Regions from separate parts of the Homo sapiens genome. Here regions 1, 3 and 4 are each reported to be linked to region 2. Evidence: microRNA targets listed by miRTarBase, many of them from high-throughput screens and not tested one by one. Region 2 holds a microRNA gene; each other region holds the end of a gene's coding sequence.
Evidence for each region. The annotated mature microRNA hsa-miR-3115 reads AUAUGGGUUUACUAGUUGGU and lies in region 2 at 1,677-1,696, opposite strand. An mRNA with a match to its seed (bases 2 to 7 or 8) in the 3' UTR can be bound and repressed. Matches are read on the target gene's strand: a 7mer-m8 pairs with bases 2 to 8, a 7mer-A1 pairs with bases 2 to 7 and ends in A, and an 8mer does both.

Region 1: the mRNA of PABPN1 is a reported target of hsa-miR-3115. Seed matches in the 3' UTR shown: 7mer-A1 at 666-672.
Region 3: miRTarBase lists FBXO46 as a target of hsa-miR-3115. Seed matches in the 3' UTR shown: 7mer-A1 at 2,588-2,594.
Region 4: miRTarBase lists HYCC1 as a target of hsa-miR-3115. Seed matches in the 3' UTR shown: 7mer-A1 at 525-531.

What each region holds. Positions count from the first base shown.
Region 1 is chr14:23,324,773-23,328,772 of GRCh38, forward strand. PABPN1 (poly(A) binding protein nuclear 1) reads left to right here. Exons shown (of 7, transcript NM_004643.4): 7 at 475-1,391. The coding sequence ends at 514. It overlaps BCL2L2-PABPN1 (BCL2L2-PABPN1 readthrough), which reads left to right. Exons shown (of 8, transcript NM_001387346.1): 8 at 1-1,391. Among named protein-coding and RNA genes, the nearest start is that of PABPN1, 5.3 kb to the left of the region's middle. RefSeq lists a silencer at 3,421-3,510.
Region 2 is chr1:23,042,006-23,046,005 of GRCh38, reverse strand. It overlaps MIR3115 (microRNA 3115), which reads right to left and starts at 1,701; the gene lies at 1,634-1,701. It overlaps KDM1A (lysine demethylase 1A), which reads right to left. Exons shown (of 21, transcript NM_001009999.3): 3 at 1,520-1,579.
Region 3 is chr19:45,708,369-45,712,368 of GRCh38, forward strand. It overlaps FBXO46 (F-box protein 46), which reads right to left. Exons shown (of 2, transcript NM_001080469.2): 2 at 2,261-4,000. The coding sequence ends at 3,316. Among named protein-coding and RNA genes, the nearest start is that of QPCTL, 18 kb to the left of the region's middle.
Region 4 is chr7:22,942,095-22,946,094 of GRCh38, reverse strand. HYCC1 (hyccin PI4KA lipid kinase complex subunit 1) reads left to right here. Exons shown (of 11, transcript NM_032581.4): 11 at 1-4,000. The coding sequence ends at 506. Among named protein-coding and RNA genes, the nearest start is that of HYCC1, 70 kb to the left of the region's middle.

The sequences.
Region 1 (4,000 bases), not on the chromosome of region 2:
CTTGCAAGGTTAACTTCTCACTGGGCCTAGTGTGGTGCCCAGGTTTTTGCCTTGCTTCACTTCTGTCTCTACATTTAAATAGACGGGTTAGGCATATAAACCTTGGCTTTTCATAAGCTCTACCTGCCTATCCCCAGGAGTTAGGGAGGATCTATTTGTGATGGCCTAGGGTTTAAGAGCTGTGGAGGACTGAAAACTGGATAAAAAGGGGGTCCTTTTCCTTGCCCCTGTCTCTCACTCAGATGCGCTTCTTTTTCGCCACTGTTTGGCAGTTTTCTGTTAAGCCCCCCTCCCCCTGCCCCAGTTCTCCAGGTGCGTTACTATTTCTGGGATCATGGGGTCAGTTTTAGGACACTTGAACACTTCTTTTCCCCCCTTCCCTTCACAGTAACTGGGGCAGGGGCCTACGGGGAGGGGCTTGTACTGAACTATCTAGTGATCACGTTAACACCTAACTCTCCTTCTTTCTTCCAGGGGCCGGGCTAGAGCGACATCATGGTATTCCCCTTACTAAAAAAAGTGTGTATTAGGAGGAGAGAGAGGAAAAAAAGAGGAAAGAAGGAAAAAAAAAAGAATTAAAAAAAAAAAAAAGAAAAACAGAAGATGACCTTGATGGAAAAAAAATATTTTTTAAAAAAAAGATATACTGTGGAAGGGGGGAGAATCCCATAACTAACTGCTGAGGAGGGACCTGCTTTGGGGAGTAGGGGAAGGCCCAGGGAGTGGGGCAGGGGGCTGCTTATTCACTCTGGGGATTCGCCATGGACACGTCTCAACTGCGCAAGCTGCTGCCCATGTTTCCCTGCCCCACTTCACCCCCTTGGGGGCTGCTCAAGGGTAGGTGGGCGTGGGTGGTAGGAGGTTTTTTTTTTTACCCAGGGCTCTGGAAGGACACCAAACTGTTCTGCTTGTTACCTTCCCTCCGTCTTCTCCTCGCCTTTCACAGTCCCCTCCTGCCTGCTCCTGTCCAGCCAGGTCTACCACCCACCCCACCCCTCTTCTCCGGCTCCCTGCCCCTCCAGATTGCCTGGTGATCTATTTTGTTTCCTTTTGTGTTTCTTTTTCTGTTTTGAGTGTCTTTCTTTGCAGGTTTCTGTAGCCGGAAGATCTCCGTTCCGCTCCCAGCGGCTCCAGTGTAAATTCCCCTTCCCCCTGGGGAAATGCACTACCTTGTTTTGGGGGGTTTAGGGGTGTTTTTGTTTTTCAGTTGTTTTGTTTTTTTGTTTTTTTTTTTTTTCCTTTGCCTTTTTTCCCTTTTATTTGGAGGGAATGGGAGGAAGTGGGAACAGGGAGGTGGGAGGTGGATTTTGTTTATTTTTTTAGCTCATTTCCAGGGGTGGGAATTTTTTTTTAATATGTGTCATGAATAAAGTTGTTTTTGAAAATAAAAATTGTTTGGCCTTTTGGGTGTAAGGATTATTTATCTTCCTATTCTCTCTTAGATCGCAGATGGCTATTAATTCTGCCTTGTGGTAGAAGTACTGGTGTTGTGGAAGGGAGGTTGCCACTTGTGAATTAAGGAGTAGGAATTACATTACAACTAGCAGGAACATTATGTGTTTAGTTGAGAATGATAGGTTTTCTGGATAACATGTAACCCTGATTGGCATTTGAGAGAGAAATAAGCCTGGGAAAGTAAAAGAATAGCTGAATTGGGCCGGGCATGGTGGCTCACTGCTACAATCCCAGGACTTTGGGAGGCTGAGGTGGGCAGATCACGAGGTCAGGAGATCAAGACCATCTTGGCTAACATGGCGAAACCCCACCTCTACTAAAAATACAGAAAATTAGCCTGACGAGGTGGCGGGTGCCTGTGGTCCCAGCTACTCGGGAGGCTGAGCCAGGAGAATGGCGTGAACCCAGGAGGTGGAGCTTGCAGTGAGCCAAGTTCACACCACTGCACTCCAGCCTGGGTGACAGAGTGAAACTGTCTCAAAATAAAAAAAGGAATAGCCGAATTACTGACCTAATGGCGCTTTTGTGTGCTCCTGATACAGCTTACGTGCAAATGAACTATCCATGCCTGCAGCCCTAGAGCTTTGGATTGGGGTCTGGGTAACCTTGTCTTTGGGGTCTCGCTATGTTGACCAAGCAATCTTCCCATCTTAGCCTCCCAAAGTATTGGGATTACAAGTGTGAACCACTGCACCCAGCTACCTTTTCTACCTCAAGGTGGGCCCAAGAAATGCAGAAGACAAAATACACTTAGCTAAGAGACAATCGGAAAGCTTGTTTTTCCAACCATGCAGTAACCATTTAATGTGTCCAGCTAACTTATATTAATTGGATCATTTATTTTTTTGAGATGGTCTTGCTTTGTCACCCAGGCTGGAGTGCAGTGGCTCACTGCAGCCTCAACCTCCCGGGCTCAAGTGATCCTCCCACCTCAGTGTCCTACATAGCTGTGACTATAGGTGCCTGCCTTCACACTTGGCTAATTTTTTGTAGAGACAGTTTTGCTGTGTTGCCCAGGCTGTCCCAAACTCCTGAGCTCAAGCAGTCCTCCTGGCTTGGCCTTCCTATAGGCGTGAGCCACAGCTCCTGGCCAGGATTAGTTTATTAGGACTTCACAACTGGCTTTCACTGTTTTCATATCTAAATTTTGTCTTGGGCATCCTAATTTCTCCATTTTTTATTCCAGTGTCAGATTGGTCTTAAAACTTGAACACTACATCACTAGCCAGGTTGAACCTTCAGACTTCATTACCTATAGAATTTCTTAGTATTTCAACCTTACTATTTTTTCATTTACTTCTCAGGATGTTTTGTTCACAATTGCCTCTGACCTGGATGCTCTTCAAAAATCATATGTTAAAGAAATGGCTCTGTGGCCGGGCGCAGTGGCTCACACCTGCAGTCTCAGCACTTTGGGAGGCAGAGGTGGGCGGATCACTTGAGGTCAGGAGTTTGAGACCAGCCTGGCCAACATGGTGAAATCCCGTCTCTACTAAAAATACAAAAATTAGCCAGGTGTGGTGGCATGCACCTGTAGTCCCAGCTACTCTGGAGGCTAAGGCAGGAGAATCGTTTGAACATAGGAGGTGGAGATTGAGGTGAGCTGAGACTCAGCCACTGCACTTCCAGCCTGGGTGACAGAGCGAGACTCTGTCTCAAAACAAACAAAACAAAAAACTCTGTTATATCTGAAGCCTTAACCCACCTCTCAAATTGCAGTATTTTCTAAAATCTCATGTCAGTGTTATCCACCACATATTTTAGGATTTGGTCATTTATTCTACTTTCTGTTATGGGTTAGGCATTTGAGGTCTATCTTTTCTCCTAACTAGATTCACCTAAAATAGTGCCGTGATCTCTGTGGCTTCTGCAGAGGCTGATTAGTGAGGGTCTGGATAGTGTTCAATATAAACTTTTTACTGGAAGAATGAAACAGCCTAAGTGACTTGTTGCTGTTAATGCTGTGATGGTCTCATCTGTCCACCAGGGGGCACTAAATGGCTGGCTCTAAAAGATCCCCATAAATTGTTGGGTATTGGAGGGTGAATCATGTTTTGACCCTTCTCTGGTTTAGTTTTCCATATTCAGTCAATTCTACCATATCTTGTCTGTTCTCTCTATTCCTACTTTCACTGCTTGAGTAACTCCCCATCATCATTGCAGGGGTCCTGGCAGATGTATTGGCTTCAAATTTTTTTTTGAAAAATAAAAATTCCTAAAAAAAGTACTTTAAAAGATAGGGTCTCGCTATGTTGGCCAAGTTGATCTTGAACTCTTGGCCTCAAGCAATCCTCCTGCCTCGGCCTCCCAAAGTGCTAGGTTTATAGGCGTAAGCTACCATGCTCAGCCTCCAAACTTCTTATTGCCAAAAAAAGCCCTCTATGATGCCACCAATAAGTACAAAGTCCAAACACAAGCATGGAACTACAACCTTTTTCAATCTGATCCTGATTACATTTCTCTTCCAGATCCTGCCCTACACCTGATGTACTATGCATTGTAGTTGTTATTTATTTTCATGTATCCCTCATGCTGTTCCCTCTAG
Region 2 (4,000 bases):
GTGGGTTTTAAGAAGTCAAGATATGATCCTGGCACCAAGATACCCATGAGGGTCATCTGGCTTCATTAAGAGAAGAATGTTGATCTCTTACAAGCACATTTCTAACCCTGATTGATCATTTCACAAATGCATGCTTCTGAACGTGACAAAGATTGGAAGAGAGATCTTGAAGGTTTTACAACAGTCACCATCATTCCTGGAAACACTTAAAATTCATGTTCTACTAACAGTAATCAGCAGCACACTTTTATATGAAAGTCTGCTTTCACTTTCAGCAATATATGATATTGTTTACTTAATGCAAAAGAGCAAATAGTCACACACAAAAAAAAAACAGAAACAAAAAACAAGAAAACTCAACTTCTTTCTTCAAGATTAGAACTCTAAAGGCCATCCCTGATCTTCAACAGTTCCATGGAAGATCTAATTGTGCGTCATTTGATGAAAAGCATTCTTCAAGGTTTATATGCCACAGATCTAGACTCTGAACAGGGTTTAATTCTGCTAAGATAACCATGTACTGATTATCAACCTGCAATCCTTGGGACAGCATTTTTAAAAGTCTGCTCCTAACATTCTGGATCCCCTTATTACTAATTGCTGTATTAACAATGAACTACCTTTAGTTCAAGAGAGTGAAATAGAAACAGTCCCAGGACCTGTTATATGCAAACTGCAAAACAAATAATTTTAAAGTAGACTTAAGACAGTTGAAAAGTGACAACCTCCAAAAGTGAAGTAGTGCCTATTCCAATTCTATCAAAACGTATCTATAAACCAGCTTTGAGCAACTGGAACAAAAACATCCTTCAAGAGACAAAGGATGAAATCCAGATACGTTATTTTGGATTGCTGGGATAAATTTTAACTGTTCCAGATGGTGGCCCCTATAAATTCTTTACTTTTTCCTAGAAGTAAAAATCTCATACTGTTTGGTCTGAACAGAAAAAAGTATTTCAGACTTTTCAAAAGACATTTTTCACATGAGAAACAAAATGTTTAAACTGAAGAATGATTAACTACGTAATGTTAACTGAAAAAAGGTACCCAATACCCTGTAACAACCATTTTTAAAAAGATGTCACTTGCCCACATAGTTCCTCTGACTAGTCCTAGAATGCCTCTCAGTCCCGTTTGTTTTTGCTTTTAGACTTTTGAGCCTGTGACTTTTCCTCTCTGTGTATACTGCTGTATTTCTCTTTAAGGGTCCCATGATTCCTAAGTCTATGTTCTATATCATGTTTACTATTAATAGAAAGGCTGCTGGGGAGAAAAGTACCCGCCATCTCCTCGAAAACACAAAGAGTGGAGGGCTGAGATCGGCCTGAGGACTTCAAAAGGTTTTGCTTGCCTTTGTTCTCACTACACTCTCTCCTACTATACTATTATGTCCTGTGGGTTAAATTTCACCTGCGCTTCTGGCTAAAATGTGGATACCACAGCCAAAAACACTTGCAAGCATCAATTCCTACTTGGCGGCTCTTGCTACTAAGTGGCAAGCATCTAATGCCACCCTCACCTGATGCTTGGCCGTCTCCATACCCTCCAGAACTGTCGTCTTGAAGTCCTCCTGCTTGCCCTGTGGAAGGAAAGAGGAGAACTCAGGGACCTTACTCCATAAATTAGGATAATATCTGGACATAAAGGCCTAATAGTTGGCGACTCATGAATTCACCACCAACTAGTAAACCCATATTCAGAGAGCTCCTTCTTCTGGAATCAAGGCCCAGGGAATTACATCATAGTCTTCCAAATTCTGGTCAGGAAGTTTCAACTTTACATGTTGATTCTTGTTGAAAGGCAGTGGAACAAAGTACATAGTATTTCTAATCACTAAATCCTTGCTGTCAGTCTTATTTAATATTAATAGTCTGGATGGGGGAAAATGGATTCCGAGTGTCTTTTACTAACGGCTGCTAGACTGAAAATGGAGCTGACATAGACTCTAGAATCTGGCATTGCAATTCAGCATCAACTTAATATCCGTTTAACTTTCTAATTTTAATGAAAAATTATCTCCTTCTCTTCAAAGCAAGGAGTATAATTAAAAGACTCAGTCTCCAAAGAAGTTTCATTTACTATACACAGTAGACACTAGTACAGTTAAATATGCCAGTGCTTCCTAAATAAAACTAAAGAACACACAATAAGACACTGTGTGTGTGTGTGTGCCAAGTACTGTAGATAAACACACACTTGTGGTAACACAGAGAAAGGCAGGCAAGATCTTGAATCTTCTACTTCATGCTACATAATAAGCTTTGTTAAGAAATTTTCCTCACTGATTAATATGTAGAAGTAACTTCAAGAAAAGAATCAAAGCTTGAAAATTCAATCTGATAAAGAATAGATTGTCTTCTGAACTCTTCCAAAATCTATCATCAAGACAGATGCTATGATGCTCTTAAGCTTCTAGTCACCTGGTACACTATAGGAAAATGAGTGTGATCTTTGGAAGACATAAAATACCACCTCCCAATGATCTAGATAAACTCAGACAAGCTTCATTAAAGTTTATTTTAAAATACGTACCCCAATAAGAAAGCAGATTGATTATTCCACCATTTGAGTTAGAAGGGAACAACAAAGAGAATAAAAAGATACTTAGATATAAGAAATTATTTCTGACAATGATATTAGAATGTGTTGCTAGAAGATACATGCTCTGTTATGAAGGTAGAATAGAATCTCATTCTAAACTTATTTTACTAAGCTCTCGTCTGAAGGGTCCTTTAGGTTCAAGAAGGTTATGCTTCTCAGACAAGGCCCAAGGTATACCTATTTACAGCCCTTGGAAAAAGGCATACAATCATGAAGAGACGATCGGGTTACTAAATCCAATCTGCAAACTTATCTTGAAAATATAGGTCCTACATTTTAAACTCTACTATAAACTTAAAATCAGATATATTCACTCTTAGTAAATTCTGGCTTTATTCATAAAAAATATTTTGTAGAGCCGGGTGCAGTGGCTCAGGCCTGTAATCCCATCACTTTGGGAGGCTGAGGCAGGCAGATCACTTGAGGTCAGGAGTTCAAGACCAGCCTAGCCAACTTGGTGAAACCTTATTTCTACTAAAAACACAAAAGTTAGCCAGGTGTGGTGGTGCTCGCCTGTAATCCCAGCTACTCGGGAGGCTGAGGCAGGAGAATCACTTGAACCTGGGGGGCAGAGGCTGCAGTGAGTCAAGATCACACCATCGCACTCCAGCCTGGGCGACAGAGCAAGACTCCATCTCAAAATAATAATAATAGGCCGGGCGCGGTGGCTCACGCCTGTAATCCCAGCACTTTGGGAGGCCGAGGCGGGCGGATCACGAGGTCAGGAGATCGAGACCATCCCGGCTAAAACGGTGAAACCCCGTCTCTACTAAAAATACAAAAAATTAGCCGGGAGTAGTGGCGGGCGCCTGTAGTCCCAGCTACTTCGGAGGCTGAGGCAGGAGAATGGCGTGAACCCGGGAGGCGGAGCTTGCAGTGAGCCGAGATCCCGCCACTGCACTCCAGCCTGGGCGACAGAGCGAGACTCCGTCTCAAAAAAAAAAAAAAAAAAAAAAAAAAAAAATAATATATTTCATAGATTTTTAAAAAATGTTGCCATTGTTTCGTTTGGTTCCAAATAAAACCAAGCTGGATCAGAAAACTGAATTTTATTTGGGCAAGAAAGGGAGCAGGGAGGGACTCAGAACAATGAAACAAATAGTTTCCAAGAATCACACTTAAGATTAGGAATAATACAGCTGTTATCGTTCAAATTATGTTTCTGACTTGGCAAAAATAAAAGTGACAGTCTCTTGTCATGAAGGTATCTCACCACTAAAAACTTAGATAAAAACAGCAAAAAACCGACAAAACAAAAAACACACACTTTGAAGCTAGCCTAAGCCTGAATTACTTTATCTTTCCTATTCCTCTCATTTCCCTTCTTTTCCAACTATAATACATGTCATACAATAAACTCACTAATTTAAGCTACAGGTAGCTCTTGACTGATTTTTGT
Region 3 (4,000 bases), not on the chromosome of region 2:
GAGATCGCGCCACTGCGCTCCAGCCTGGGCAACAAGAGCGAAACTGCATCTCAAAACAAACAAACAAAAATATTTGTGGGGCTTCTAGATGACAGTTCCTTCCACAGGTGGACTTGTGTTTGTTTCTGCCAGACATGTCAGCTAGAAGTACCCTGTATCACACAGGACGTGAACCTGGCTGCGAACCTGTGCCGAGGGCCAGTCTGTGACCACAGATTATCAGAATCTTTCTTTTTTTTTCATTTGATTTCTGCCTCTTGAATACCTCTTCAGTCTTCCGGGTCATCCTTACCTGAGCTTGTAGCTCTCTGGAATCCCAGTTCCTGCAGTTGCTCACTGTGGGCTGGCTTTGGACTTGACTTTTGCCTGCTCCTTCCAGTAAGGCTGCCAAGTAGGAAACCCCAGTGTGTCCACATCAGCAAACACCCTGAGAGCAAATGTGGCTTCAGAGCCCCACATATCATTCTTTTTTTTTTTTTTTTTTTTTTGAGGCGGATTCTTGCTCTGTCTCCCAGGCTGGAGTGCAGTGGCGCAATCTCGGCTCACTGTAAGCTCCGCTCCCCGGGTTCACGCCATTCCCCTGCCTCAGCCTCCCGAGTAGCTGGGACTACAGGTACCCACCACTACACCCGGCTGATTTTTTGTATTTTTAGTAGAGATGGGGTTTCACTGTGTTAGCCAGGATGATCTCGAACCGCCCGCCTTGGCCTCCCAAAGTGCTTGGGATTACAGGAGTGAGCCACCGCGCCCGGCTCCCACATATCATTCTCTTAACTATTTGGCGTGGTGGGTCTTTACTGTATTTTATTGGCTATTTGATCCTTTGAAGGGCATTTTTTTTTCAGTTGTTCTCAACAGGAAGGTCCGAATAATCTAACTCACCCTCCCCACAAGATTCAAACCCAGGTCTTATTGATTCTAAAATCTAAGCATTGAATCACTACCATAATGTATCCTAGTCCTCTGGAAATTCTGATTTCCGGAGAAGAATGTCAGAGACTTAGCTGCCTCTCAATATCCATTTTTCCCTTCCTTTAAACTGAAAATTTAAGATATCCAGCTGGGCGTGGTGGCTCATCCCTGTAATCCCAGCACTTTGGGAAACTGAGATGGGTGGATTACTGGAGGCCACGAGTTCGACAGCAGCCTAGACAACGTGGTGAAACCCCGTCTCTACTAAAATACAAAAATTAGCCAGCTGTGGTGGCGAGTACCTGTAATCCCAGCTACTCAGGAGGCTGAGGCAGGAGAATCATTTGAGCCCGGGAGGCAGAGGTTGCAGTGAGCCGAGATCACACCACTGCACCCCAGCCTGGGTGACAGATTGAGACTGTCTCAAATAAATAAATAAAAAATTAAGTGGCTATTTAAAAACTTTAATTACAGGGATTTTTAGTAAAGAGTGTTTTGTTGGGCATATTGCACCCAGCTAAAAGACTGCATTTCCTAGACTCATGCAGCCCTTCTGTGGCTAAGTCTGACGGGTGAGATGTATATAGAAGCATAGTGTAGTGCTTCTGGGAGGAAGGGGGCCTCCCTTCCAGCAAAATGGTGATAGTAAAAGCAATATAATCTTGGCTGGGCATGGTGGCTCACTCCTGCAATCCCAGCACTTTGGGAGGCCGAGGCGGGCGGATCACGAGGTCAGGAGATCGAGACCATCCCGGCTAAAACGGTGAAACCCCGTCTCTACTAAAAATACAAAAAATTAGCCGGGCGTAGTGGCGGGCGCCTGTAGTCCCAGCTACTTGGGAGGCTGAGGCAGGAGAATGGCGTGAACCCGGGAGGCAGAGCTTGCAGTGAGCCGAGATCCCGCCACTGCACTCCAGCCTGGGCGACAGAGTGAGACTCCGACTCAAAAAAAAAAAAAAAAAAAATTTAAAAATTAGCTGGGTATGTGGCGTACACCTGTAGAAAACCCAGCTGCTTGGCAGGTTGAGGTGGGAGGTTTCCTTGAGCCCAGGAGGTTGCTGCAGTGAGCTGTGATCATACCACTGCACTCCAGCCTGGGTGACAGAGAGAGACCCTGTCTCTAAGGGAAAAAAAAAAAAAAAAAAATCTTGTTCAAGCTACTACTATTTTGAGATTTTTCAAATCCAAATTGACACAGATGAGAAGAGTAAAAAATAATCTCAGGCTAAGGGACTTGGCTAGGGATCCCTTCTCTTTCCACTTTTTCCATCCCCCATACACAGGCCTACAACTCCCCTCTCTTCCCAAACCCTCCCTTCACAACACACAAACCAGTCTGCACACAGCCTTATAAATATTGATTTTATAGAAAGGACCAATTCAAAATTGGTCAGATGCCACACGCTAGAAGCTTCCAGAACCACGATGGAAAGAAAAAAAAGAAAACAAAAAACAGAGAGAACAAACAAAAATACCCCAGACCAAAATGCCTGAAAAATCAAGGTCCTGGTTGACCAAAGGATTCTTAAAGAAACATGTGGCTGGGGTGAGGAGACCCCAATGCCTGAACGAGACCCCAGAGTGGAAGGAAAAACAACCCAGAAATGCAAATCCGAAGTCCCTGCCCACGGGGCCCCCCCACGCTGTCAAAAGCGAGGCAAAGGGCTTCACAGCTTTATGGGGGTGGGGTTGATGGCAGTAGCTTAAATAATAACGGGAGGAGGAGGGTTTTTATACTTCAGCTTTTTTTTTGTCTGCCCCCCTCTTCCTCTACGCGGAAGAGGAGAGACTGGTAGCTTGAGGTTAAGGAGAAAACAGTATTTCCCCCCCACTTCTTTAATAGGCAAACCATCTAGAAATGGACTGTCATAAAAAAATGCCAGATCCCACCTGTGACCTGACAGCCCCCAATTCCTAGAGAGGTGAGAGCTGTCGTGTGGCAGGTTAGGAGAGGTGCCAACCTTGGGCGATGCGGCTTCTTGGGAAATAACAGCTCCAGCGAGAAAGAATTGGGGTGAGGGAGAGGATGGGGGCCAGAATGGGGGGACCCTTAAGTGGTACCAAAATTAGCTGCCGTCTGCTCCCTGCTGGTGGGTCCTTGGGGTGGAAAGCATGGCAGGGAGGGGGTTGGGGCTGAATGGAGAAGAAAGTGAGATGCTGATAAAAAAAAAAAAAACACCCTTCTCAGAGGGTCCACGGCCCTGGTTCTGAAGAGTAGAAAATCAACAGGATCAAGCAGAGGGCTTTCCTGGGTCACCCCTGCTGAACCCCAGCTCAGTTCCGGTGAGGGATCAATGCTGCCTGGAGTAGGGGAATGGGCAGGCGGCCCAGTCCGGACCCTCGGCTCCCGGGGGGAGAGGGGAGGGGTGGGCGTGGTGGGCTCTCCCCTCCCCTCCCCCGGCTTCACCTCCCCTCCTCCCGGCCGGCCCGGCCCCCGCCTGGCCCATTGCAGGGCAGCACCCAGTTGTTATCGTGGAGGCCCAGGCGGCAGCCGGGAGTCTCGCGGTCGGCTCGACGGCAGCACATCCAGTAGGAACGTCCGTAAGGCAGGTCATGGTGGTAGGGCTTGGGGTGCCAGCGGCAGAGCGACACGTCGCCCTTCTCGTATCTCTTGCGGCACTGTTTGCACGGATCATCGCGGTAGAGCGGGTCTCGGCTCCAGCGCGAGTCTGTGGCCCGCACGCCAAACGCCTCGATGATGCCCTTGAAGTGGTGGCAGGTGCACTTGAGGGCGGCCAGCGCGCGCGTGGGCAGGAAGCTGAAGATCTTGACCAGCACGTGCTCGGGCAGCAGCAGCATGTACTGTCGCGGCTCCAGCAGCCGCTGAATCTTGAAGCGGATCTCTAGGAAGTCGTGCGACACGTGCCGGTACAAGCGGCACAGGGAGGTGTCCGCCGTGCCCTCGGCATCGTCTGGGCCGGGCGCAGTGGCCGGGGAGTCGGCCGGGGGTGGCTCCGGGGGCCCGTCCGGCCCGCGGTTCTGGAGAAAGAAGAGCTGGCCCGGAGGCGGCGGTTCCTCCGGGCTGACCGTCAGGCACACAGTCTCCTCCTTCACGTTCTTGGTGCCGTCCTTGCCAAAGAAGATGCAC
Region 4 (4,000 bases), not on the chromosome of region 2:
GGGCTGCGTCTAGTACCAGCCAGTCGGGTTTATCAAACAGTAGTCACAATTGTAGTAACAAGCCAAGTATAGGAAAGAACCACAGACGGTCAGGAGGAAGCAAAACTGGAGGAAAAGAAAAAGAAACTACAGGGGAATCTTGCAAAGATCACTTTGCTCGAAAACAAACTCAGAGAGCCCAAAGTGAGAATCTTGAGCTTCTCTCTTTGAAGAGACTTACTTTAACAACCAGCCAATCCCTACCTAAGCCTAGTAGCCATGGTTTGGCTAAGACCGCAGCGACTGTATTTAGTAAATCCTTTGAACAAGTCAGTGGTGTCACAGTCCCACATAACCCGTCATCTGCTGTTGGTTGTGGGGCTGGGACAGATGCCAATAGGTTTTCCGCTTGTAGTCTCCAAGAAGAAAAGCTTATTTACGTTTCAGAAAGAACTGAACTTCCAATGAAGCATCAATCAGGTCAGCAGAGACCTCCTAGTATTAGCATTACTCTGTCCACAGATTAATTAGTAACATATTTTTCTCCCATAACCTAGTGAACCTGGAAATACAACTTTGCTTCTTTATGAAAGTACCCTGGGTCTTTCATCCGTATTCCTGACAGGAGCCCTGATGTCTTAAATTCTGAAGGCTCCCCTGACTTTATGAAGGGAAGATTGTCTAGGTTGCAGTAAGTTGAAATATGGTTTTGTTATTTCTTGATTAAGATTTTTTCCCCTTGGTTTGAGTCTTTTTTTTCCCTCCTCTTATTTGTTATTGTTGCCCTAAGATTGTCAGTGACAATAAATTTTGACAGGTTGTCTAATCAAGTTGGTTATGTCTCATGTGAGGTTGTAAGGTGGTTTTTCTTGTTTTGGTTTGGTTTGGTTTTTTAATAGCTCCTATTTTGATGGCTGTGTGTTTGGCCTTCAGAGTCAAAGGGAGTCTGCATGTATGGGAACTGTTTTATAGAGAATGGGGCAGAGGCACAACTCCAGGAATTCTCTAGCTCCTGGTCAGGAAGCCAATCTGAAAACAGGCATGTGGAAACACAAAAATGATGTGTATGAAAAGCACCTGATGAAAATATTTGTAAGCAGATCATCTTTATGATTAGAACAATTTGCTCAAAGCCCTGGAAAATGCCTGGTAACCCAGTGCCTAGAATATTATATGATTCCAGGGGATGGCTAGAGGCATTTCTGTTGTTATCTCTGAAACATTTTTATATCAAAAATCAGATTGCTGGTAGGTGTGTTGTTTTGAAGTGTTTTATCTGGATTTAGCATGTGAAGATCCCTTTCAATTATTAAGGTATAATAGGCTGTAAAGCTGATTTACCCTACTGCTGGACTTTGGAAATCCTAGTTAGTTTGGACTCCTATAATTCAGAGCATACGTCATTGGAAGACTTCCTGGAAATCAGTGTAAATCTTGCAACATAGCTCTCAAGATACCACTGTATAATATGTAATTGTTTGTCTGCAAATGCATTTTTCATCTATAAAATGTCATGAAAGAAAATAAAGGTAGTGAAATATGGACAAAGGACATTTATATATTAACTAAAGTTGTTTATGTTTGTGTTCTTAAATTTAAAACACGAAGAAAAAGAAATGTCTTTCTTGTTAGTGAACAGGCCTGTTTTAAATATCTTAGTATGATATCAAAAGAATAATCAATTTAGTTACCTCCCAACTAAAAAGTAAAAATGAAAAAGACGACATGGCAGAAGTTGAAACAAACTTGTATGTATCTGTATGTGACCTCTAGATGGAAATAAAAGTTTGATGTTTGCTAGCCGTGGTCCTTTTGGCTATGGTTGCGGTTCCCCTGTAAAGCAAATGTACTTAAGTCATCATTCAGAGTGAGAGAGAGAAAGCACGGCTGAGGCTGAGTCAGTTGACCGTTGAGGAAGACCTAAGGAGCTGTCCAGTTCTTGGCTCTTTTTCACTGTGACTGCACAGCGGTTTCCTTCTTCATAGTCCCTTGCTGTAGTCACCAAGAGAGCATGCTAGTGTTTTCCTCTTGTTCCTGCTTATGCAGAGCTCAGATATATGAAAAATTTGTATGCTTTGAAGGCTGCCAAAGCATTTATACTCTGGACATAGTTTTAACTGCAACTGCTTTGGCTACCAGTTTAAACCGAGTTCTTCAAAAAGCATGAACTCGTTTTCATTCATTAGCCCTGTTTACAATGTGGATTTTGACATAAATGAATTTGATTTTCTTTTAGCTCCAGTAACAGAATGGAATAAGATCTATTGCCATAAATTGTAGTTAAGAACTGTAAGGCAATCGGGCAGTGAAACTTGATATTGTATTAACTTAATAGGAACCCTGTGTACAATTTAAAATATTTGTAAAATATCACTGTGAATTTACAGATGTCTTTTTGTCATTCTTTAACAATGAATTTCCCCTGTGCATAGTTATTAATAGTATTGGTATTATTAAAAACTAATTTGGCATTTTAAGATTGGCATTTTAAGCAAGTTGAGGTGCTTAGGAAACATTGTAGAATAAGTTTGGGGAAATGTTAGCTGACAGAGCTGAGAGATCAGATTTTCATGTTCTATCACTGTAATGGAACCTCATTTAGACCTCTCTAGACCTTTGCTAGCTGTGTGGTCTGAGGACCAGTAAGTAGGATTGGCATTATCTGGTATCTTGTTAAAAATGCAGAATTTCATGCCACTCTAGGTCTACTAAATCAGAATTTGCATTCTTAACAAGGTTCCCAAGTGATTTTTATGAGAAGAAAGTATCAGAGTGCAAACAAATTACTCGTCTAATATGTAGAATTCCCAGTGGTCTCACAGCCCTAGATCAAATGTGTCAGACACTAGATCATTATAATCTTCATTGGTTTTGACAGCTAATTAATTAGTTTAATAATATTGACATATGGCTTCTTAAGTATTTGAATTCTAGATTGCTAATGATCCTTATTTTTGCAGTAAAAAAGTAACACTTTATATTTTTCTTGTTAACTATAAATGGAATCAGAGCTGTAAATGCCTGAAATTTTAAGTGTGAAAAGGGGTGCCACCCTTTTATATACTGCACAACAAATTTGCATTTGTATATTCTTTTTAAAAAATCTCTGAAGACTTGCTCAGTGAAATGGTTCTGATTTTTTGCTTCAAATGATTTGCACTAATTGATTTTCTGGAGAGCGGAGTTACGTTAACAACAAAATTCTTTTATAGTTCCTTTGATACTATTTCAAATAAGGATTACACATTGAAAGTTTTTATAGAAATTATGAAAATTGGATAATCTTAACTATGGTAACCATTACTATTATCCATACTACTTTCTCCCCACTGAACTTTCAAATTTGAAAATTGGGGTAGCTTTTGTAGGTCACTTTCTTATAAAGATGCTGATGGTCACAGATCTCCTAAGTATCCAGAATAATATTTTTATCATGAGAAGGATTCCACACAAAATTGGGGTCTTGCACCCCATATTTCAGAGGATCTGAACAGAAATTGTGGCTTCATTGCACATTTTAAATCTCTATAGATTCTTGAAATCACCCAACCTCTCACATTTGAAAACCCAACGGCCTGGAGTATTCTGGTGGCACTGGAGCCAGCACTAGCTTTTTGGAATCCAAGTGGGGAGAGAAACAAAAATAGACTTTTCAAGGGACTGTCCCAGACTACCCAGGGCAAATGTCTTCCCTTCCCTTCCTGAAGCCACAGGAAAGCACCCTGGAGTCCTTTGTATACCACTATGGAAATTTTTAAGGCAAGCTCTCAAGACTTGAAGAGTTGGAATTCTCGGCATTTAAATGATGCCTGAAGTTTGTTTTGAAAAAGCAATATTTCATTGCTCTTTTCAATTGTGAAGCAACTGCTCAGCAAATATTACTCATTTTTTTAAAAAGTTGAATTAAAGGGAAATATATTTTTAAAACCAAAATAGATCAAAATGATCCCAGTTTTAAGGGATTTTGCCTATTTTGGAAGAATAAAACTAAAATGTTAAAACTGTTGAATTACAGAGAACA